7 linked regions of the Homo sapiens genome follow. The protein of the gene in region 1 purifies or fractionates together with the protein of each later gene. This does not show direct contact. Each region holds a gene or a part of one and is shown in the gene's direction. Other genes may lie near its edges.

What was found.
Region 2: the proteins of CPLX3 (region 1) and LYG2 purify together in Homo sapiens (affinity purification with mass spectrometry; 2 studies listed by BioGRID and IntAct, with this or other methods). This does not show direct contact.
Region 3: the proteins of CPLX3 (region 1) and DSG4 purify together in Homo sapiens (affinity purification with mass spectrometry; 2 studies listed by BioGRID and IntAct, with this or other methods). This does not show direct contact.
Region 4: the proteins of CPLX3 (region 1) and DUSP14 purify together in Homo sapiens (affinity purification with mass spectrometry; 2 studies listed by BioGRID and IntAct, with this or other methods). This does not show direct contact.
Region 5: the proteins of CPLX3 (region 1) and VSIG8 purify together in Homo sapiens (affinity purification with mass spectrometry; 2 studies listed by BioGRID and IntAct, with this or other methods). This does not show direct contact.
Region 6: the proteins of CPLX3 (region 1) and CAPN12 purify together in Homo sapiens (affinity purification with mass spectrometry; one large-scale study listed by BioGRID and IntAct). This does not show direct contact.
Region 7: the proteins of CPLX3 (region 1) and ATE1 purify together in Homo sapiens (affinity purification with mass spectrometry; one large-scale study listed by BioGRID and IntAct). This does not show direct contact.

Annotation. Positions count from the first base shown.
Region 1 is NC_000015.10:74,829,627-74,832,302, forward strand, and holds the end of CPLX3 (complexin-3), read left to right. Parts: exon of another isoform or gene 1-75; intron 76-503; coding exon 504-728; 3' UTR 729-2,176; downstream 2,177-2,676.
Region 2 is NC_000002.12:99,241,746-99,245,666, reverse strand, and holds the end of LYG2 (lysozyme g-like protein 2 precursor), read left to right. Parts: intron 1-208; coding exon 209-405; intron 406-1,529; coding exon 1,530-1,668; intron 1,669-3,184; coding exon 3,185-3,303; 3' UTR 3,304-3,421; downstream 3,422-3,921. UniProt on the Homo sapiens protein: May act as a potent antibacterial protein that may play a role in the innate immunity.
Region 3 is NC_000018.10:31,404,277-31,407,776, forward strand, and holds part of DSG4 (desmoglein-4 isoform 2 preproprotein), read left to right. Parts: intron 1-1,800; coding exon 1,801-2,097; intron 2,098-3,500.
Region 4 is NC_000017.11:37,496,391-37,499,890, forward strand, and holds part of DUSP14 (dual specificity protein phosphatase 14), read left to right. Parts: intron 1-3,500. UniProt on the Homo sapiens protein: Involved in the inactivation of MAP kinases. Dephosphorylates ERK, JNK and p38 MAP-kinases. Plays a negative role in TCR signaling by dephosphorylating MAP3K7 adapter TAB1 leading to its inactivation.
Region 5 is NC_000001.11:159,856,737-159,859,657, reverse strand, and holds part of VSIG8 (V-set and immunoglobulin domain-containing protein 8 precursor), read left to right. Parts: intron 1-745; coding exon 746-924; intron 925-1,366; coding exon 1,367-1,568; intron 1,569-1,691; coding exon 1,692-1,913; intron 1,914-2,921.
Region 6 is NC_000019.10:38,732,084-38,734,474, reverse strand, and holds part of CAPN12 (calpain-12), read left to right. Parts: intron 1-85; coding exon 86-156; intron 157-270; coding exon 271-333; exon of another isoform or gene 334-337; intron 338-534; coding exon of another isoform or gene 535-563; exon of another isoform or gene 564-693; coding exon 694-772; exon of another isoform or gene 773-773; intron 774-2,391. UniProt on the Homo sapiens protein: Calcium-regulated non-lysosomal thiol-protease.
Region 7 is NC_000010.11:121,914,532-121,918,031, reverse strand, and holds part of ATE1 (arginyl-tRNA--protein transferase 1), read left to right. Parts: intron 1-3,500. UniProt on the Homo sapiens protein: Involved in the post-translational conjugation of arginine to the N-terminal aspartate or glutamate of a protein. This arginylation is required for degradation of the protein via the ubiquitin pathway. Does not arginylate cysteine residues.

The DNA of each region.
Region 1 (2,676 bases):
AAATGGTACCCATCACTATTTTTGGTTACACCCTTAAGCATAACAAGAGTCAAAACATGACTTAGCTGACTGTAACAGTGTGACTCATAGGTATTTTCATTTTGTCTTTACTCACTGTGCTGGTCCTTCAGCATCTCAGAGTGAAATAAGGTAATATAAAAAGGTCTCCATGTCCAGGCATCAAACGCTTGATCCTGGGATGTGGGGGTGGGAGCTGAGCTCACTGGAACATGGGGCTCAAGAATCTAAGGGGCCGGGCACAGTGGCTCATTCCTGTATTCCCCCGGCACTTTGGGAGGCCAAGGTGGGCATATCACTTGAGCCCAGGAGTTTGAGACCAGCGTGGGCAACATAGGGAGACCTCGTCTCTACAAAAAAAAAAAAAAAGAAAAAATAGAATCTAGGGGCCTGGAACCCAGTCCAAGCCTCCTCCCTGTCCTCTCAACTCTGGGTCCTCACAGACTTCCACTCCACCCCACCCCCTCTTCCCCTCTTCCCTTCAGAACGAGACAGATGAGAGCCAGATCCAGATGGCAGGTGGAGACGTGGAGCTGCCCCGGGAGCTGGCCAAGATGATCGAGGAGGACACAGAGGAGGAGGAGGAGAAGGCCTCAGTCCTTGGGCAGCTGGCCAGCCTTCCTGGCTTGAACCTGGGCTCACTCAAGGACAAGGCCCAGGCCACACTGGGGGATCTCAAGCAATCAGCTGAGAAGTGTCACGTCATGTGACCACTTCCCCGGGGTTACCCACTGGGCTGGGCCCCCATGAGGGCTAAGAGTGTGTCAACTTCCAGGGACCCATACTCCATTTGGGGCTTTGTTTCCCTTGCCCCATCCTAGTTCCAAGACCTTTCCCATCCATGCCCCAAGCCTATCTTCTGGTTTCTTCCTCTCCGCTGGGAGTAAAGTCCCCATCTTCACTCTACCCTTCAGGACCCTCCCCACCAGCTCAGCCTGTGGAGGCCTCCCAAGATTGTAGGAATAGGCCCATCCCTCTCTGGCCATGGCCCCAAGTTCCTGCACACAGGAGCACCCACAGAGAGACACACACAGGACACAAAACCCCTGGCACGTTCAGAGACAGAAGCCACAGATACATCCCGGCACAGACAGACACACACGAGGCCAGCTCCCTTGCGTGTCCAGCCCCTCCAGACACCACCACTCAGAAACTCTGAGAGAGAGCATGGGCAGACACCCTCAGCAGACAGGAGGCCTGAGTTCCAGTCTCCACCTTTATTGTTCTTGAAAGCCCCTGCTCTCTCTGAGCCTTATTTCATCATCTGTAAAATGGGAATGTCCTGAATGACTTCTAAGGCTCTTTCTGGCTTGAACTGTCAGAGCCAAGCCCACATCCCTCCTTGGGCAGGGCAGCAGCTGCTGCCACAGCCTCCAGCGGCTGCCACTGTGGGCTCTGGGAGCCGGAGCGATGCTGTGTGAGAGGCAGAGTGCCAAGGATGAAGCTGGCACTGAACAGTAAGCGGCTCCAGGCCTCCTCTGGGCCCAGGGCCCAGCCAATTTCTGTTCTGTTCCTGTAGAACGCTCTCTGGATTCCATAGCTGGAATCTCCTCTCTTAGCTCAGTGAAAAATAAAAATCCCAAATGGTGTGCCTACCTTCCCACTTCTTACTGGCTTCCAGGAGTCTTGGAGTTCATAGCCCCCCGAGCCTGCCTTAAAGGGGTGTCCTCCACCCCCCACCTACAGCTTCACAGGAGGGGAGAAGGCATCCAGTGCTAGGAGTAGAAGTGTCTCCAGCTCTGTTCTCTTGGGGCCCTGGGTGAAGGTGGGGTCTGGGGCTTATGAAATAGGTCTGGGCTTTGAGGAGGATGGAGCAGCCTCATTATGTGGGGAAGATGGGGCCTCTGGGGCGTCACTGAGACCACAGGTGGGGCCGGGGCTGGACCGCAGCTGTCTTGGGTGCCTGTGCCTACACCCCTCCTCACCCTAGAGACGGAAGATGTGCAAAAAGAAAGAAGGAAGGGCAACTGCATTCCAGCCCCACACTGTGATGACTTTGAGCCTGTCCTTTCCCTCCTTGAGCCTGTCTTGCTTGTCCCCTGTAAAATGAACAGTCCCCCTCTCCCCCAAATAGTAATAATACATGTTTCAAAGGGTGACCATTTATAAAGCATATGACAAACCATATCAATAAATGTAACTCATTCTTTTAAAAAAATGAAGAGCCCAGATCTCATCCCGCTCACCTGTGGCAGGGGCTGAGGGGCAGGGGTCAGGGGAGGTTTAAGAAACCAGCCAGGAAGCTCCCCAAGCAGGTCGCCCCAGGGGCCTGGGCAGGAGGAAGGTGCTATGGGGCCAACCCTAGGTGCCCCACCCCGAGGTCCAGGGCCCGGCCTGTAGGGAAGCCAGCCAAGGTTCACAGGCAGGAGCGGCTGTCTGAGGATTGGGTTTCAAGGGCAAAGTTTCCATGAGGTCTCCTTTGTAAAATAAAAACAAGGCATATACAACCTGTACAGGAGATCATGCGGGGCTGGAAGAGAGGAGACAGGGCAGGGAGAGACACAGGCCCAGCCCTGGAGTCTGCTGCTGAAGCTGTCACTCTTGGTCTCACTCTCCTGAGTGTCCCCAGGGAATGGGCCTGGGCCTCTGAGCTGCTCCTGGGCTGCCCCCAGGCCAGGGCCTCCTCCTGACCTTCTCAGAGCTGGAGGAGACCCAAGC
Region 2 (3,921 bases), on another chromosome or scaffold:
AAGAAACAGTTTCTTTTCTTTTTTTAACTTTAAATTCTTTTTTTTTTTTTTTTTAATTAGAGATGGGCTCTCACTATGATGCCCAGGCTGGTTTCGAACTCCTCCTGGGTTCAAGCAATCCTCCTGTTTCAGCCTCCTGTGTAGCAGGAACTGACTTCAGGCACACACTACCATGCCCGGAAAAACAGTTTCTTTTCTATTGACGTAGGGATCCGTGGTTCTGAAATGTTTGCTGAGATGGATTTGAGGGCCATAAAACCTTACCAGACTCTGATCAAAGAAGTCGGGCAGAGACATTGCGTGGACCCTGCTGTCATCGCAGCCATCATCTCCAGGGAAAGCCATGGCGGATCTGTCCTGCAAGACGGCTGGGACCACAGGGGACTTAAATTTGGCTTGATGCAGGTATTTAGCTAGAAACTTTCTATCAGCCCCACTGCATCCCTCCTCACAGAAGCTCAACCTGAACTAGAAATCCATTTGCAGTGCTTCCAAGCCCCAAAATACCCTGGCATCTGGCTACAGGTACTCCAGCATAATTTTTTTTTTTTTTTTGAGATGGAGTTTCATTCTTGTTACCCAGGCTGGAGTGCAATGGCGTGATCTCGGCTCACTGCAACCTCCACTCCCGGGTTCAAGTGATTCTCCTCCCTCAGCCTCCTGAGTAGCTGGGATTACAGGCACACGCCACCATGCCCAGCTAATTTTTTGTATTTTTAGTAGAGACGGGATTTCACCTTGTTGGCCAGGCTGGTCTTGAACTCCTGACCTCAGGTGATCCACCCACCTCAGTCTCCCAAAGTGCTGGGATTACAAGCTTGAGCCACTGTGCCCGGCCACTCCAGCATAATTTGATCTGGGATTTCTGTAACACATCTTTTTATTTTATTCAAGGCTTATTCATTATTAGATATATTTTAAAAAGTATTTTAGGAGTTTCATAACTACCATTCTGCAATAAATAATATGTAATACACTAAAACTGAGAAAATCTTATAAATAGCATTATTGTTACAGGTGTCCTCTTGGGGTTCATGAAGTAGTAAATTTCATCCATGTGGATCAAAACATGGTATAACTGTGCCCTACTTGAAACAACTTGTTCCTTTGGGTAAACTGGAGGAAGGGGATCCAAATTATCTGGATATTTGCTTCCAGGCTCGATTTTAAATTGTCTGTAGAAATACAGACTTCTGGCCTTCCCAGTTAGAAACAAATTTTTATCTGAATTAGCTGGATAATTATTTATTACTATAAATGTGTAGACTTTGGGTGTTATTTGTTTCAAAACAACTTAAATTTTTTTTTTGTATATTAGAATGTTTAGCTAAAACTATACCATGTCCATTTCTCCCAAACCTTACTTTGTTTCTCTGACTCTCATCTATATGAAAGAAAGAACAATAGAATTGACTCTTTGGGGATAAAGGCCGGTATCTATGACTTGAATACCAGGAGAGGAAATTAGGAATGGCAGAAAAAATGTGTTACCTCATCCAGATGCTGACTTTATTATCTGAATTTTCTAGCTTGATAAACAAACGTACCACCCTGTCGGTGCCTGGGATAGCAAAGAGCACCTTTCACAGGCTACTGGGATTCTAACAGAGAGAATTAAGGCAATCCAGAAAAAATTCCCCACGTGGAGTGTTGCTCAGCACCTCAAAGGTAGGCTGTATTCTGAGTACTTTGTTTAAATGAGCAATGAATGAGACCACTGAAGGCCAGTGTGACCCGAGACTCCCTGGGAGCATTTCCACGGGGTCAGCAGTGGCCCTGGGAGGAGCTGTCTAGAGGCTGCATTTGCATTCCCTGAACCACTGAGTTACTTTGAGAGGTCCTCCATCCTCAACCTCCATTTCCTCTTCTGCAGAATGTTGGGGTTCTTATTCATTGCTTACTGAGCTATTGAGTGATACCTTGAAACATAGTGAGACCCTGTCTCTACAAAAAAAAAAAAAAAAAAAAAAAAAGCTGGGCATGGTGACACACAGTCCCAGCTACTCAGGAGGCTAAGCCAGGAGGATTGCTTGTGCCTGGGAGGTTAAGGCTGCAGTGAGCATTGATTACATCACTGCACTCCAGCCTGGGAGACAGAGTGAGACCCCATCTCTCAAAAAAAAATTTATCTATCTATCTATCTATCTATCTATCTATCTATCTATCTATCTATCTGTTTGCCTACCTCTCATAGGTTTTTTCCTGTTATAAGAAACTGTCAACAACTTTCCAAATTGTCTGAACAATGTTACTCTGTGAGTATTTTCGGGACTTCAGGTGCTATATATCCAAGTGGAAATCTCTGCTTGGCTGACCACAGGCCCCCTCAAGTTCAGCATCTCCCAGATGGAATTAACTCACTAACTTCCCACTATAAATTTGCTCTTTCTTCTGCATTTTACATGTCTTGGAGGCACCATAATATAGCCAGTCATCCCAGCCTGAAAACCAGATTGCTTTCTTAGGCTCTCTGGTTCCTTCTCTCTTCACACCCAACCACATCAATTCCTATTAGGTTTGCCTCCTATTGGCCAATGTTATGTCCTCCACACTCTAACGGCCTTAATCAGAACAGTTTCTAGTCTCTACTTCAAGGTCCTTGAAGGCAGGGATCAGGACCAGGCATCTTCCTCTCTGGATATCAGAGCAGAGCACAATTATGTTAAACACATACATAACTACTAGAGATAAAATTCTAGGGTAAAATAGCACACACATGCATATGTACACATACCCAAAGAAATAAGTGTGTCTTGGGTACCTTGCAGTCAGTGTGGCACCTCTCCTGGCACATAGTAGGTGCTTGAAAACATTTCCTGAATGAATAAATGAGTGAGTGAATAGATGAGTGAATTATTGAATAAATGAGAGAATGTTACAAGCATTTTCAGCAGAGGATGTACTGGGAGTCTAGTTCTGCCAGGCCTGGATTACATAAAAAAGCAAATCTGATTTTTGCAACAAGAAAAACCAAAGACTTTGGAAAAAGAGAAAGAAAGCAATCTGGAATTTTCCCAGTGATTCTTGGGATAGCACGTCCTTTCAGAAAGGGAGGGAGAGGGAGGAGGATTTGGGACTGCCTGCTTTGGAAGATTTGCCTGGAAAGCTAACATCTTGGCAATGCTCATTGCTTATTTCTGTTGAAAGTTAATATTTGAGCCTAATTCTCTGTGTTTCATTTCAGGTGGTCTCTCAGCTTTTAAGTCAGGAATTGAAGCGATTGCCACCCCATCGGACATAGACAATGACTTCGTCAATGATATCATTGCTCGAGCTAAGTTCTATAAAAGACAAAGCTTCTAGGCAAAGCTCTGTGGGTGGGCCAGGTTGGCAGAGTGCTCAGATGGCCGCCTTTGAGAGTTTTACGTGAATGTGTTGTATACAACACTGGCAAAGAAATGATTAAAATCATGAAAGAAAATTCATTTCCCAATTTTCTGAATGAAAATAAGCATTGAAAAAAGGAAAGAAAAATAAAAGAAATCCATCCAGTTCACAATATGGTTCCTAGGAAACGGACATAGACATATATATAATTACTTTGCAGTAAATGTGAATATCATGGCAAATGGTCCCTAGGTATTCCAGCCAGGCTTCATTTTAGCCTGTGATTCCAATGCCCACCTACTCCCTGTCTACCAGAATTGCTAACAAGTTAAGTAAGCCTTACCCGAGCCTTTGTCTTTTTTCCAGTATCTGCCCAGAGCCCTCAGGCTTTGCTTATGAGAAGTTCCTGACTCGTAAGCCAGCCAATCCATGGGACAATGGAAGAAATAGGGATGGAATTCTAGCTTCATGGGAAACTGAGAGCCAACTGAGGTGAAGCTGTCATTCAAGTTAGATACACCAAGTCCTTCAAACCCACAGCAACCTCCTGTGTTTTCTTTTGTCTGTGAAGATCCAGGGACTGGCTTTTCTTAT
Region 3 (3,500 bases), on another chromosome or scaffold:
AAAGTGAAAAACAGATCACGAAGTTGTATATGTATGTATCTTGACTATAACTACATACAATTGAATGGCTGACATCGATAAAAATTAAGAATAAATTTCAGATAACATAACATTTTATCTACCTTGCGTTCTTTTTCCTAAAACGTTAAGTGCATAATAAAAAAGAAAATGCTATGAGAGGATCTCATATGGGCTAAGATAGCTCCCCAATCTCATATTCATTTGGGGCTACAGGGAAAATTTCATGGGCTAGTCGGTGGCCATCAGACTACAGAGCCCAGGGTGAGAGGAAATACTTCCCACCTCTTTAAGGTCACCAAGCCCCTCTATTTACAGAATGGAGAAACCCTAAAATAAGGTGGGGAAAATACCACCAATAAAGTAAGAAATTAGGCAATTTGTTTTTACCATCAAACCTTTAGCTCTTTTCAACAAAACCACTTTAATATTTTTTAAAGTTAATCATGTTAAAGCAATTCCATTAATATCAAGTCAACTCTGAATTCACCATCTCCTATAAAGCTCAATAGCCCATTCATAAACAATAATAATTGCTAACCACTTTTTTCCTCATTCGGATCCTAGATATTATGATTACACATGTAAGAAAAAATGTTCTGCATGGAGGTATAATATTATAGCTATTACAGGTTTGCCAATAAAAAATATAACCACACTGGAGATGATATTCCTAGAGACCTGTTTCAATGCTTGCTGGTGTTTTAGAACAGAATGAATTTCACTTAATGTGCTGTGGCATTGCCTTATCTCATTTTTACCTTGTGCACAGGTTAGATTTTGGTGGACATAGCTGGCTTGCCATCTAGCTAACTGAGGATAATAAACCATCATAATAAAAAATATTGTGTGCTATGGATCAATCAGTTACTATTCATGGTTTAGCTGTAAATTTAATCATCTCAACACTCCTTGTATTAATAAATAAATTCCAATGAATATTTTAGACAATATGTTTTATGAAAATTCATAGGCAATGATAGCACAAAGAATTAGGAGAATGTGAACAATTTTAAATGAAAGGGCAACAATTTTGAGTAAGATACATATAAACAGTCTTAAGGAGGGTATTGTGTAAACTGTAATCCTAAATAGAAGACTTCTAATATTTTCTTTCAGCTCAATATTATTTATTCATTGGGCAAATATTTATTGAATGTATATTATATGCCAATTACTGTTGCTCTGGAAAGATGCAGCAAGGTCCTTGCCTGCATTATAGAAGTAGCAATCCAGCAGTAAGCAATACTTATTTAAAAATTAGTTATAAATGTTAAAAAAAAAAAGAAAGAAAGAAAAGTAAAAAAGGCCAGGCAGAATGGCTCATGCTTGTAATCCAAGCACTTTAAGAGGCCAAGGCAGGTGGATTGCTGGAGCCCAGGAGTTCAAGACCACCCTGGGCAATATGGCAAAACCCTGTCTCTACTAAATGTATATATATTAGCCAGGCATGGTGCCACACACCTGTAGTCCCAGCTTCTCAGGAGACTGAGGTGGGAGAATCACTTAAACCTAGGAATCCAAGGCTGCAGTGAGTCATGTTCGTGCCACTGCACTCCAGCCTGGGCAATAGGAATGAGACTCTGTCTCAAAAATAACAAGAATAATAATAATAATAATAAATTAAATAAATGTTAAAAAAAAGTACAAGGTGCTTTATGACTAAGAAAGCATGAAAAATCTAGTGTTTTAAGTCAATATTTGGTATTAGGGAGAGTTAACCACCCCCCTAGCCCACCAAGGAATTTCCATTTATTTTCTGTTTCCTCTCTTCCATTTCAGCTACCTCGGCAATCCTTACGGCTAAGCAGGTTTTATCTCCAGGATTTTATGAAATCCCAATCCTGGTGAAGGACAGCTATAACAGAGCATGTGAATTGGCACAAATGGTGCAGTTATATGCCTGTGATTGCGATGACAACCACATGTGCCTGGACTCTGGTGCCGCGGGCATCTACACAGAGGACATAACTGGTGACACGTATGGGCCTGTCACTGAAGACCAAGCTGGAGTTTCAAATGTTGGTCTTGGACCAGCAGGGATTGGCATGATGGTTCTGGGCATCCTGCTACTGATTTGTAAGTACTCAATTAAATCCTTCTTTTCAATAGTTCTTCAAAATAGGGCTGTTACGAGGCTCGCTGGGATGGTTAGGTTCATGGAGCCATTTCTTTTTGGTATCTCTAGCAATTTTTGAGTGCCTTAGAAATAAACAATGGGACTGACAAATATATGCGCTTAATCCACAATGATAACTAAGAAAGCCTAGGGTGAGTGACAGTCCTAAAAATGGGAAACACATGCAAATCACTACATATACTACCTAAAAGCACAAAACAAATCCCATCATGGAAATTTCCTTAAAATGCTTTAAGAGTAGAGAGGCAGAAGCAATTAAGTCCATGTGGAAAAGTTAGGACAATCTTTTGGAAAAGTGGATTTTGAGGTGAGCCTGAAAAGCTGAGGATTTTTTTTTTCTTTTTTTCTTTTTCTTTTTTTTGAGATGGAATCTTGCTCTATTGCCCAGGCTGGAGTGCAGTGGCGCAACCTCGGCTCACTGCAACTTCTGCCTCCCAGGTTCAAATGATTCTCCTGCCTCAGCCTCCCGAGTAGCTGGGACTACAGGCGCCCACCACCACGACTGGCTAATTTTTGTACTTTTAGTAGAGACGGGGTTTCACCATGATAGCCAGGATGGTCTTGAACTCCTGACCTCGTGGTCCACCTGCCTTGGGCTCCCAAAGTGCTGGGATTACAGGCATGAGCCACTGCACCCTGCTGAGGATTTCTTTTAAAGGAGGATGATGTCTAAGGAAATTTGAAAGGTAATCAAACACACACACACAAAAAAAAACCACACACACAAACAAAAGGGAGCAAGATATGGAAGAGCATAGCACACCTAGGAAGCAGAGAGGCAAAAGGGAGTCTGGGAGCCAGCATGGAGGCATGTTCATGACACACCAGGCATTCTGGGCTTCAGTACAATGGCACAGAAGAGTTGATGAGGGCTGATGAGCGCAGGTGACCCTGCGGTAGGAAGCAAGTAGAAGAGACTAGAACAGAGAATTAGCCTCTGGGCTCTGGGTGAGTGCCTAAACTAAGACTGGTCACAGAAGTGGAAAGATCACCAAACAAAAATTTCCCAAAAAGGGCCCTCCTTTCCCCATAGAGTTTTTTTAAACATATAGATCCTCAGAGGAAGAATACTTCATACATTTTAGGTTGCCCTTGCAATATTTAGGTTTCATGGGGATCAAAAGCTGGGTTCTAAAATTAAAGAGAAGTAAATTTGTCAAACTGTATTGTTGCTGTTTTCAGGGATGAGCACTAATTAAAATGTAATCATTTCAAGGCATAAAAAATAACAGCTGACTTTTGGTGAGGATTTCTTTTTTGAAATAATCTGTGAGGTTTCAAAGCTATGCAAAGATCATGAGTGATTCTCACAATGATATTAGACACATTTTCCCAGAATATA
Region 4 (3,500 bases), on another chromosome or scaffold:
GGTCAAAAGTTCAATCGAGACTAGCCTGACCAACATGGTGAAACCCCATCTCTTATAAAAATGTAAAAATTAGCCGGGTGTTAGGCCGGGCACGGTAGCTCATGCCTGTAATCCCAGCACTTTGGGAGGCTGAGGCGGGTGGATCATGAGGTCCGGAGTTCGAAACCAGCCTGACCAACATAGTGAAACCCCGTCTCTACTGAAAATACAAAAATTAGCCGGGAGTGGTCGTGGGCCCCTGTAATCCCAGCTACTCCAGAGGCTGAGACAGAGAATTGCTTGAACCTGGGAGGCGGAGGTTCAAGTGAGCCAAGATCATACCACTGCAATCCAGCTTGAGTGAAAGAGCGAGATTCCATCTCAAACAAACAAAAAATTAGCCGGGTGTGGTGGCATGCACCTGTAATCTCAGCTACTTGGGAGACTGAGGCAGGAGAATTGCTTGAACCCAGGACGAGGCAGTTGCAGTGAGCAGAGATTGAGCCACTGCACTCCAGCCTGGGCAACAGAGTAAGACTCTGTCTCAAAAAAAAAAAAAAAAAAAGAAAAGAAAATTATTGAAAGCAAATTAACCAGCATCATAACTCACCATTCAAAAATCATTGCTCATACTTTATCTTTTATAATGCTTAGAAATTAAGTATTATCAAGTCAGAGCTTCCTTGGGCCATTTCTCTTCCCTTCCCACTGAGACAACCACTCCCATGAATTTGGTACATTTCCTTCCAACTCTATTTAAATATCAATTTTACTTCAAACTGCATTTTTTTTTTTTAAAGACAGAGTCTCTTCCCCAGGCTGGAGTTCAGTGGCACAATCTCAGCTCACTGCAACCTCCGCCCTCCAGGTTCAAGTGATTCTCTTACCTCAGCCTCCTGAGTAGCTGGGATTACGGGCACATGCCACCATGCCCAGCTAATTTTTGTATTTTTAATAGAGATGGGGTTTCACTGTGTTGGCCAGGCTGGTCAAACCCCTGACCTCAAGTGATCCACCTGCCTTGGCCTCCCAGAGTGCTGGGATTACAGGCATGCGCTACCGCGCCCTGCCTTCAAACTGCTTTTTTGATGAATGTCAAAAGGACATAGAGGCCTGGTGTGGTGGCTCATGCCTGTAATCCCAGCACTTTGGGAGGCCTAGGGAGGTGGATGGCTTGAGCCCAGGAGTTCGAGTCCAGCCTGGGCAACATGGCAAAACCCTGTCTCTACAAAAAACACAAATTAACCGGATGTGGTGGCTCATGGCTATCGTTACAGCTACTTGGGAAGCTGAGGTGGAAGGACTGCTTGAGCTCAGGAGGTCGAGGCTGCAGTAAGCCATGATTGTGCCACTGTGCTCCAGGATTCTTGCTCAAAAAAAAAAAAAAAGACAAGACAAGACTAAGCATGGTGGCCCATGCCTACAATCCCAGCACTTTGGGAAGCTGAGGCCAGCCAGAGTATCACTTGAGCCCGGGAATTCAAGGCCAGCCTGGGCAACGTGGCAAAACCCTGTCTCTACAAAAAATTAGCCAGGCATGGTGGCGCACCCCTGTAGCCCCAGCTACTCAGGAGGCAGAGGTGGGAGGATCGCTTGAGTCCCAGAGGTTGAGGCTGCAGTGAGCCTAGATTGCACCACTGCACTCCAGCCTGGGTGACAGAGCAAGACCCTGTCTCAAAAAAAAAAAAAAGGACAGAAATCTTTACTAGCCTTTATTTTGTACTGTCACATATGTTCTATGTTTAGGGGATGGAACTCTTAGAGCATTTCACATTTCACATGATATTTCTTTTTTTTCCTTTTTGTCACATGATGTTTCTTGTTAACAAAAATTGGAGAAGTATTTAGTGTTTTACAGAGCTTCAATTACTTGGTGTAAACTTTCAGCCAAAGGTGATCCAAAATGGAAATGGAGTAGAACTTGTTTTGTGTACTAGATTGTATCTTTTTTTTTTTTTTTTTTTTTTTTTTTTTTGAGACAGAGTCTCGCTCTGTCGCCCAGGCTGGAGTGCAGTGGCGCAGTCTCTGCTCACTGCAAGCTCCGCCTCCCCGGTTCACGCCATTCTCCTGCCTCAGCCTCCCCAGTAGCTGGGACTACAGGTGCCCGCCACCACACCTGGCTAATTTTTTGTATTTTTAGTAGAGACGGGGTTTCACCGTGTTAGCCAGGATGGTCTCGATCTCCTGACCTCGTGATCCACCTGCCTCGGCCTCCCAAAGTGCTGGGATTACAGGCGTGAGCCACCGCACCCGGCCTAGATTGTATCTTAAATCCAAATGACTACTGTATTATATGAAAGTAATCAGTTTTTTTTTTTTTTACAAAAATTACACTTACGGAGTTTCTTATTCCATTTATCCTCCTAGAAAGTACAGGAGATATTTTTTCCACAATATCAGATTACTCTTAATAATATTTTTAGATTCCTTCTAAAAAGGTACTTACTAGAAATGTGAATTCCCAGGCCTTCACTTCCAGAAATTCTGATTAATTAGGTCTGGGGTGGGGTCTAGGAGTCTGCATTCTAACAGGCAGCCCAGGTGATTCTCGTGTAGGACTCCTTGGGAGCACACTTTGAAGAATGCGTCTACTATGCTGTGATGGTTTTATAACTTACTAATTTCAACCAAGGATTGGTGTAGTAGCCCATTCTCACGCTGCTATGAAGAACTGCCTGAGACTGGGTAATTTATAAAGGAAAGAGGTTTAATTGACTCGCTGTTCCACATTGCTGGGGAGGCCTCAGGAAACTTACAGTCAGTGCAGGCAGGGGAAATGCCAGACGCTTATAAAACCATCAGGTCTCATGCAACTCACTCAAAATCACCAGAACAGCATGGGGGAAACCGCCCCCACCTGGTCCTGCCCTTGACACGTGGGGATTATGGGAATTACAATTCAAGGTGAGATTTGAGTGGGGACACAGAGCCTAACCATATCAGTTGGCAAACTTTCTTTTTTTTATTTTTTAAATTTTTTTATTTTAAGAGATGGGGTCTCACTGTTTGGCTCAGTCTGGAGTACAGTGGCATGATCCTGGCTCACTGCAGCCTCGAACTCCTGGGCTCAAGCAATCCTCCTGCCTTGGCCTCCCAAAGTACTGGGATTACAGGTGTGAGCCACCACACCCGACCCTCTAGAAGTGTTTTTGTTTGTTTGTTTGTTTTTTGTTTTTTGAGACAGAGTTTCGCTCTTTCACGCAGGCTGGAGTGAACTGGCGCGATCTCGGCTCACTGCAACCTCCATCCCCCCGGGTTCAAGCGATTCTCCTGCCTCAGCCTCCCGAGTAGCTGGGATTATAGGTGCCCACCACCACACCTGGCTAATTTTTATATTTTTAGTAGAGACGGGGTTTCACCATGTTGGCCGGGCTGGTCTCAAACTCCTGACCTCAGGTGATCCACTCACCTCGGCCTCCCAAAGTGCTAGGATTACAGGCGTGAGCCACCATGCCCAGCCTAGAAATGTTTTACTAATTAGTAATGTAGTCTTCTAAAGGGAACTATTACATTGTCATATT
Region 5 (2,921 bases), on another chromosome or scaffold:
CACGAACACAGCCAGGCTCCTGGTCACAGCTGTCCACTGTCATGCACAAGCACACACTGTCACTTTTAAGCACTTACATAGCTCACATGGTCACACATCACTATACAAAACCACACAGAGGCATACAGCCACAGACTCACACTGTCATACACAGACACACATAGACACACTTAGTCTTTGGCTTCTCAGGCTGGAGAGGAGTCCCAGAAGCCATTGTAACCACCCCGCTGCCTCTGGACAGGAGGACTTCACTCAGCCCAGACAGAGCCCACATAGGTGACATTTAATCAGCCAGGCTCTTCTATCAGAGCATTTAACAACTCTGTGTGTACCACATGCCTTCACACACACAAACACATCCACACTATCATATAAATATATAAGCAGACACGCTACGTGGTCATGTACATGAATATCCTCACAGTACACATAAGCAGCCACAAATACTCATAAGCATACAATGTACATACGTGTACATATTCATACATGCATACACATAATCATATATACATACAAGCATACATAACAGCTACATATATAACAGCTATATGTATAGCTGTTATATGCCTGTGACAATTCATGCACACACACATACACACCCACTACGAGCAGCCCTCCTTTTTATGAAAGCACTGCTGACCTCTGGGTGCCGTGGACAGAGAATATGAAGGGAAGGGCTGACACTGACTCCTCCTGAAGCCCTGCTTCTGCTCCTACCACCCCATCTTCTCTGCCCTCCCCCTAGCACTGCTGTCTGCTGTGCGGATCAACGGGGATGGACAGGAGGTCCTGTACCTGGCAGAAGGTGATAATGTGAGGCTGGGCTGCCCCTACGTCCTGGACCCTGAGGACTATGGTCCCAATGGGCTGGACATCGAGTGGATGCAGGTCAACTCAGACCCCGCCCACCACCGAGAGAACGTGGTGAGTGCTGGGCACAGGGGTCTCCTTCCTCTAGGCTTCATGATGTCTACCTGTTGGACAGCCAACATCCCAAAGGGAGAAGACTGACCTTGAACCTCCCCCAAGGCCTTTCAGGGAATGAGGCAATGGGGATGAGAGCTCTGCAATTGTGAATTAAGCTAGCCAGTCAGTCTACCTCCTCCCATCCCATTCTAAAAGGAAGATAAGTTGTAGTCTTTGCCTTCAAAAAGTTCCCAGTCTGACCATATATCTTTCCAAGTGCTTGATCTCACCTGATCTCACCAGTTCTGTAAGAGGTCAGTGGCTCAGGCATCATTATTCTCATTTTTTCAGCTGAGAAAAGAGTCTCAGAGAAGTTCAGTGAATTGCCCAAAGCAGCCAATCCACATGGCCCTTCTTGGCTCTGCCTGTTTCACCACCTGTTTTCCTCTCCTCTTCACAGTTCCTTAGTTACCAGGACAAGAGGATCAACCATGGCAGCCTTCCCCATCTGCAGCAGAGGGTCCGCTTTGCAGCCTCAGACCCAAGCCAGTACGATGCCTCCATCAACCTCATGAACCTGCAGGTATCTGATACAGCCACTTATGAGTGCCGGGTGAAGAAGACCACCATGGCCACCCGGAAGGTCATTGTCACTGTCCAAGGTATGGCCAGACTCCTCTAAGCTCCTCTCCCCCTGGCTTAAGAGCCAAGGGCAGCTTGGCCACTTTGAGCCTGGCTCTGTCTCTTGGCTGGGCCCTGGCTTACAATTGTCTGCCTCCTTGCAGCACGACCTGCAGTGCCCATGTGCTGGACAGAGGGCCACATGACATATGGCAACGATGTGGTGCTGAAGTGCTATGCCAGTGGGGGCTCCCAGCCCCTCTCCTACAAGTGGGCCAAGATCAGTGGGCACCATTACCCCTATCGAGCTGGGTCTTACACCTCCCAGCACAGCTACCACTCAGAGCTGTCCTACCAGGAGTCCTTCCACAGCTCCATAAACCAAGGTGAGAGGGCCCTGGATGAGGGCAGTCGGGGGTGAGTGGAAGATCAGGGACTCTGGGACCTGTTGGGGTTTCCTTGGGTTATCAGTGCCATCAAATCAAACCTGGAATCCCTGTGGGAGACCCTCCCTCTGGGCCTGCCCCAGCAGCTGCTATTTTTTTTTTTTTTTTTGAGACAGAGTTTCGCTCTTGTTGCCCAAGCTGGAGGGCAATGGCATGATCTCGGCTCACTGCAACCTCTGCCTCCCGGGTTCAAGCGATTCTCCTGCCTCTGCCTCCCGAGTAGCTGGGATTACAGGCATGCACCACCGCACCTGGCTAATTTTTTGTATTTTTAGTAGAAACGGGGTTTTACCATGTTAGCCAGGCTGGTCTCAAACTCCTGACCTCAGGCGATCCGCCCGCCTTGGCCTCCCAAAGCGCTAGGATTACAGGCGTGAGCCACCGTGCCTGGCCCAGCAGCTGCTATTGAGAGCAGATGATAAGGCAAATGTGGAGAGTCAGTCAAAAGTACTATGGCGAATTTGGAGGGAGCCTGGTCTCAGACAGAGCTGGGCTTGAATCCTGGCTGGGACACTGACTGGCTCCAAGTTTAAGGCAAGTGGCTTACCCTCCCTGTGCCTTAATTTCTTCATATATGGAAAGGGAATACTAACATATACCTTTCATGGGCATGCAAGGATTAAATGGGGGAGGTGTGTAAAGCTCCTAGTACATAGAGAAGCTGAAAATATTCAGTCAAACAAAGAATAATAGAGCTAGGAGGGACCTTAGAGTTCCTCTTCCCCTGGCTTCTCCTGTCCTCACTGTACAAAGGAGGAGACCAAGGCTCAGAGAGCGTACATATTTCCCTAAGGTCAGAGTGAATTAATGGTGTCCCTGTCTTGCTGCTGGGAGAGAGGTCCTTTCTTGCATCTCTTTCACAGCAGGGGGAAGGTGACTCACCTGGAGAGTGGAGTGTGTGTGTGTGTGTGTGGGTGTGGGTGTACACACATGCATAAGCCTTCCCTT
Region 6 (2,391 bases), on another chromosome or scaffold:
GCTTAAGGGAGTCACATCCACCCAGCCCTTAAAGTGGTGGCCAGAATGCAGGAAGTGCTGTGGTTTGACTTTGTTTTTCCTGTAGCCAGGGCCCATACCTCCACCCCCAGAGAGATCGGGCTCAGGACCTGTGAGCAGCTGCTGCAGTGTTTCGGGGTACATGGGGGGCAGTGCCTGGGTGAGGGAGGGAGTGGGGAAGGGGACGTTGGGGTCTCTCCTCCCCTTCTGGAGAGATTGACCTTAACCAGATGCCCCCGACCCCCAACACAGCATGGGCAAAGCCTGGCCTTACACCACTTCCAGCAGCTCTGGGGCTACCTCCTGGAGTGGCAGGTGAGGTGGGAGACTGGGCCTCTTCCCAGAAAGAGAGAAACCTTTACTAACAGAGACATAGGCACCCTGTGGGCTATCAGGTCCCCAGGGAACGAGGGGGTACTGGACTAGGCTGACTTGGAGAGATCTGGCTGGGATATCCCTGCCCCCACCCAGCCTCAGCTTGTCCTCTGGGTCATTGCTCTTATTCCCATTTTACAGATTGGGAAACAGAAGTCCCAAGTGGCTAGGCTGCTTGCTGGGGGTCCACACCAGAAGAAAGGGAGTTGGGATGGGCACCAGGCTGTCTTGCCTGGGAGGCCCCATTGGCAGCCCTCTTCAGGGCATGGAGGGCAGCCCTGACTCATCCTTCCTGCCCAGGCCATATTTAACAAGTTCGATGAGGACACCTCTGGAACCATGAACTCCTACGAGCTGAGGCTGGCACTGAATGCAGCAGGTGTGGACAGGGTCCTGGGGTGGTCGTGGGGACAGGACCTGTTCTCTCCCATCCCATTGTCTCCAAGTCCCCCTGCTCAGCTGTGGCCGTCTGCACTGTGGCCATCCACAGGCCCACACCTTAGCTTGTTGCCAGTCCCTGGCAGGGGTTGGGTGACCCTGAAAGAGGCCAAATAAGGAAGGAGAAGGGCAAGGGGCGTGTGTGGGGTGGGGAGGACATGAAAGGGGGATGTGCCTGGTAGGGGTTCTGGGGCAGGGAGAGGCCCCTCCAGGAAGGGGAAGATTAGGAGCTGGTATCTGAGAGGGTCTGGCCCCCAGGGCAGCATGGTAGAATGTTCTGGATTCTGGTGCACCGGGGTTGGAATCCTCACTCTACTGACTCCAGGAGGGGCCCTGGGCACTTGACTTCATCTCTTTGAGCCTCCATTTTCCTCTCTAAAATGGCCAGGGCCTGGTGTGGTGGCTCACACCTATGGTCCCAGCTACTCAGGAGGCTGAGGCTTGAGGATGGCTTGAGCCCGGGAGGCTGAGGCTGCAGTGAGCCGTGATTGTGCCTGGGTGACAGAGCAAGAGCCTGCCTCTCAAAAAAAAAAAAAAAAAGCTAGTACACAGGGTGGTGAGGAGTCGTCCATGCACTGCAGGGCATAGCACTTAGTGATTGGAGAATGCAGCTTTCATTACCAAAAGCCCCAAAGAGAGCCGGCCAATGGCCTCTGCTACTAGGCTGAGTTCCTCCTGATGAGCTGGAACAAGCCCAGCACAACATCCTAACCAAGAAAGAGAGCCAGAGAGAAAGGCTTTCCATGGGCTCCAAGGCAGATGAGACAGTACAGCACTGTGACCCTCATGTGGAGGGGATTTGGAGAGTGGGCTGGGGTCAGAACTTGGAGTTCCCAGATCCCCAACCCCACTCTGGGGCCTGTCTGCCACCACACAGCAGATGGAGCCACAGGGAGATGGGGGCTGGGGTGACTGTGATGGAGTCGGAGAGCCAGAGGGAGAGGGTTTGGGTGTGGCTGTGAGTGTGAGACCCAGAGAAGGTGGTCAAGTGTCCAAAAGAGCCAGCCGGGCGTGGTGGCTCACGCCTGTAATGCCAGCACTTTGGGAGGCTAAGGCAGGCAGATTGCCAGATTGCTTGAGCCTAGGAGTTCAAGACCAGCCTGGGCAACATGGCGGAACCCCCGTCTCTACTAAAACTACAAAAATTAGCCAGGCGTGGTGGTGCGTGCCTGTAATCCCAGCTACTTGGGAGGCTGAGACAGGAGAATCTCTTGAACCCGGGAGGTGGAGGTTGCAGTGAGCCAAGATCATGCCATTGTACTCCAGCCTGGGCAACAGAGCGAGACTCCGTCTCAAAAAAGAAAAAAGAAAAAGCCCAAGTCAAAGGGGGAGAAATGGGGTCAGAGACAGCCAAGGATTGGGAGACGTGGGGCAGAGAGGGAGAGGCTGGGCCGGAGATAGACAGGAGTGGAGGTGAGGGAGCAAGGACTCACAGCAGGTGGCAGGTGGCAGGCTTGTGTTCACGCATCTGGCACCAGTGAGTGCCTGTTACATGCCAGGAGTTATTCCAGGAAGAAGGAAACTGATAAAGTGCCCTTGAGAATTTCTCAAACGGGAACT
Region 7 (3,500 bases), on another chromosome or scaffold:
CATTTTCCATATTTACTCTTCTGGTTATTTTTACCTTGTATATAACAGCAGTTGCAATGAGAACTTAGATAAAGGAAAGGGGCTTATAGCTAACAGCTTAGCTTCTTGTTAGTCAGTAGGGACTCTCCAGTATGTGTGTATAAATGAGGATGAACTTTTCTGGCTATGATTTTTTAAGTTTTTTATTTTTATCAGAATTCCACATGCTCATTAAATGTCAAGTTGCAATAAAGTTTGTTTTGGAAAAAGCAATCCCCCAACCCCCCTGTCCCATTTCCTGTTCCCCTAAGGCAGTCATCTTGAAACATTTTAACTAATTCTTTTGGTTTTTCATCTCCCTGTCTTTAAGCAACATGCTTATATAATTGTAACACTTGCATTTTTTTTCTTTTTCTGTTAGTTTTCTCCATTATTTCCGGGCTTCTCTCTGTGGAAGATAAGGATTTAGTTTTCTCTTATCCCTGTTTCCCTGCCACATTCAAGCTCGTTTTTGTCCCCATCCCTAGCTTTCCATTCAGAAGTGTGATTTTGGGCAGATGTGTTCATATCCATTGTGACTGTGTAAATATGCTTCACAACTGAACCATGGCGGGTACTGTGATTACTTTTCCTGCACAAGTTTTTGCTTTCCTTGGAGTTACTAATTATCTTTTTTGTTTGCATAGTGTATATAACTATGACCAGATTATTTTGAAAATAAATCCCAGTTATGTAAGTTTTTTCTTAGTATATTTAAACGCATCAAGTGCTATGATCGCTTTTATCTACTTGAGAAAAGTCCCTTGTGGAGCCTTCTGACCGGCTTGATCTGAACAGGTTACCCCCTGCACCTGAAGCATCACGGTCAGCCTGGGCTATTTTTTTTTTTGAGATGGAGTTTTGCTGTTGTTGCCCAGGCTGGAGTGTACTGGCACAATCTCAGTTCACTGCAACCTCCACCCTTGGGCTCAAGTGATTTTCCTGCCTCAGCCTCCTGAGTAGCTGGGATTACAGGCGCCCACCACTATGCCTGGCTAAGTTTTGTATTTTTAGTAGAGATGGGGTTTCATCATGTTGGCCAGGCTGGTCTCGAACTCCATACCTCACATGATCCACCCACCTCGGCCTCCCAAAGTGCAGGGATTACAGGCATGAGCCACCATATGTGGCCTGGGCTATTCTTTTTACTGTCATCTTGGGGATTTTTTTTTTTTGTTTGAGACGGAGTCTCGTTTTGTTGCCCAGGCTGGAGTGCAGTGGCGCGATCTTGGCTCACTGCTCCCTCTGCCTCCCAGGTTCAAGTGATTCTCCTGCCTTAGCCTCCCGAGTAGCTGGGACTACAGGCATGTGCCACCATACCTGGCTAATTTTTTGTATTTTCAGTAGAGACGGGGTTTCACCGTGTTAGCCAGGATGGTGTTGATCTCCTGACCTCGTGATCCACCTGCCTCAGCCTCCCAAAGTGTTGGGATTGCAAGCGTGAGCCACCGCGCCCGGCCTGGGGATTCTTTTTAGCACCTGAGTTGGAAACCCTTCTTTCTTGGATTATTCCCTTGTTTTAGTGAAGCACATCTTCTAATAGAGAAAGTGCATAAGAGTTACATTTTTGAGACCTTGTGTGTCTGCAAACTTTGATTCACTGCTCAAACTTTAGTTTGGGAGGGTACAGAAGTGCAGGATGAAAATAATTTTTCTAGAATTTTGTTCCACTATCGTATTATTACTGTTGAGAAGTGCGGTGATATTCTGATCCTCATACCTTTGTCTGAGACGTGTTCTTTCTCTTTGGAAGTGTTCCTTTTTTTTGTTGTTGTTTTTTGTTTTTCGAGGCAGAGTCTCGCTCTGTTTCCCAGGCTGGAGTGCAGTGGTGTGATCTCTGCTCACTGCAAGCTCCGCCTCCTGGGTTCATGCCATTCTCCTGCCTCAGCCTCCTGAGTAGCTGGGACTACAGGTGCCTGCCACCACGCCCGGCTAATTTTTTGTAGAGACGGGGTTTCACCTTGTTAGCCAGGGTGGTCTCCATCTCCTGACCTTGTGATCTGCCCGCCTCGGCCTCCCAAAGTGCTGATATTACAGGCATGAGCCACTGTGCCTGGCCGAAGCTTTTCTTTTCTTCTCTTTTTCTTGTTTTTTTTTGTTTTGTTTTGTTTTGTTTTTTTTTTGAGATGGAGTCTCACTCTGTTGCCCAGGCTGGAGTGCAGTGGTGTGATCTTGGCTCACTGCAAGCTCTGCCTCCCAGGTTCATGCCATTCTCCTGCCTCAGCCTCCCAAGTAGCTGGAACTACAGGTGCCCGCCACCACGCCTGGCTAATTTTTTTTGTATTTTTATTAGAGACAGGGTTTCACCATGTTAGCCAGGATAGTCTCGATCTCCTGACCTCGTGATCCGCCTGCCTCGGCCTCCCAAAGTGCTGGGATTACAGGTGTGAGCCACGGCGCCCGGCCTCTCTTAGGAAGCTTTTCTATCCTCTGTTCTACATTTCATAGTCAGTTTGGCTATGTGTCTGTTTTTATCCATCACAGACAAACTGGAGGGGCCCTTCTTATCTGGGGGCTCGTCCCATCTTATCCTTTAGTTCAGGGGAATTTTCTTAAATTTTTTATTCTATCTTTTCACCTCCATTTTCTTTTTTAATGCCTTTATTTAGATTTTGGACCTTTTAAACTAGTCTCTGACTTTACCTTTTCTCTTCAGTTTTTCATCTTTTTTGCAGAATCTTCTGGAAGGTTTCTTCAACTTCAGTTTTCAGGTCTTCTACTTAATTTTTACATTTCTCCTGTCATATTTTTACTTTTGAAGTTGTTTTTGTTCTCAGACTCTTATTTGTTTATTTAATAACACCTTGTTATTTTATGGATGTAGTGGCTTAATAAACGAGATCTTCCTAAGGATTTTTTTAAAAGGTTCTCTTCTTTCTGTCATGGTCTATGTCCTCCAGGTTACTTTCTCCAGTTTGTTCGGTACCTATCTTTTCAGTGGAGGCTCTTCTCGAGTGTCTGGTGATTCTGACTTTTCAGTGTTCCATTGGAAATTCCGTGTACCTGATGGGTTTGGTTTACTGTGGGTCTTGGGTGTTTCTCGGCCTTGTTTACTGTGGGTGATCTGGCTGGGCTCTTCTGTTGGGGAATCCCTGATGTTAGTATTTTTAGGTCTGATCACATTCTGGAGAGAAAGTATTTCATAACCTGCTGTTGTTCTGGACCTGGGTTGGTGATCTCAACATGTACTGTGTACACTTTTATTTAAGCCGTTTTCAGTAGTACCGCTGCTTTCAGCTGTGGCTTGCATCCATCCTGTAAGAGGCTCTATGTTACTCTTTCCTGCAAGTTTGCAGTTTTCTGCTGGGTTGAGTAGGGAGTCGTCTAGTCATCTGCGGATGGGAGAGGGGATCTGACATCTATCCTAACTGCTTCGAAAACAAGACTTTGAAGGGATCTTTCTATTTTTAGACCTAACTTTCACTCATATTTCCAGAGCTATGAGGTGTCACCAATCCCTAAGACTTTTAAGGGTAATATAG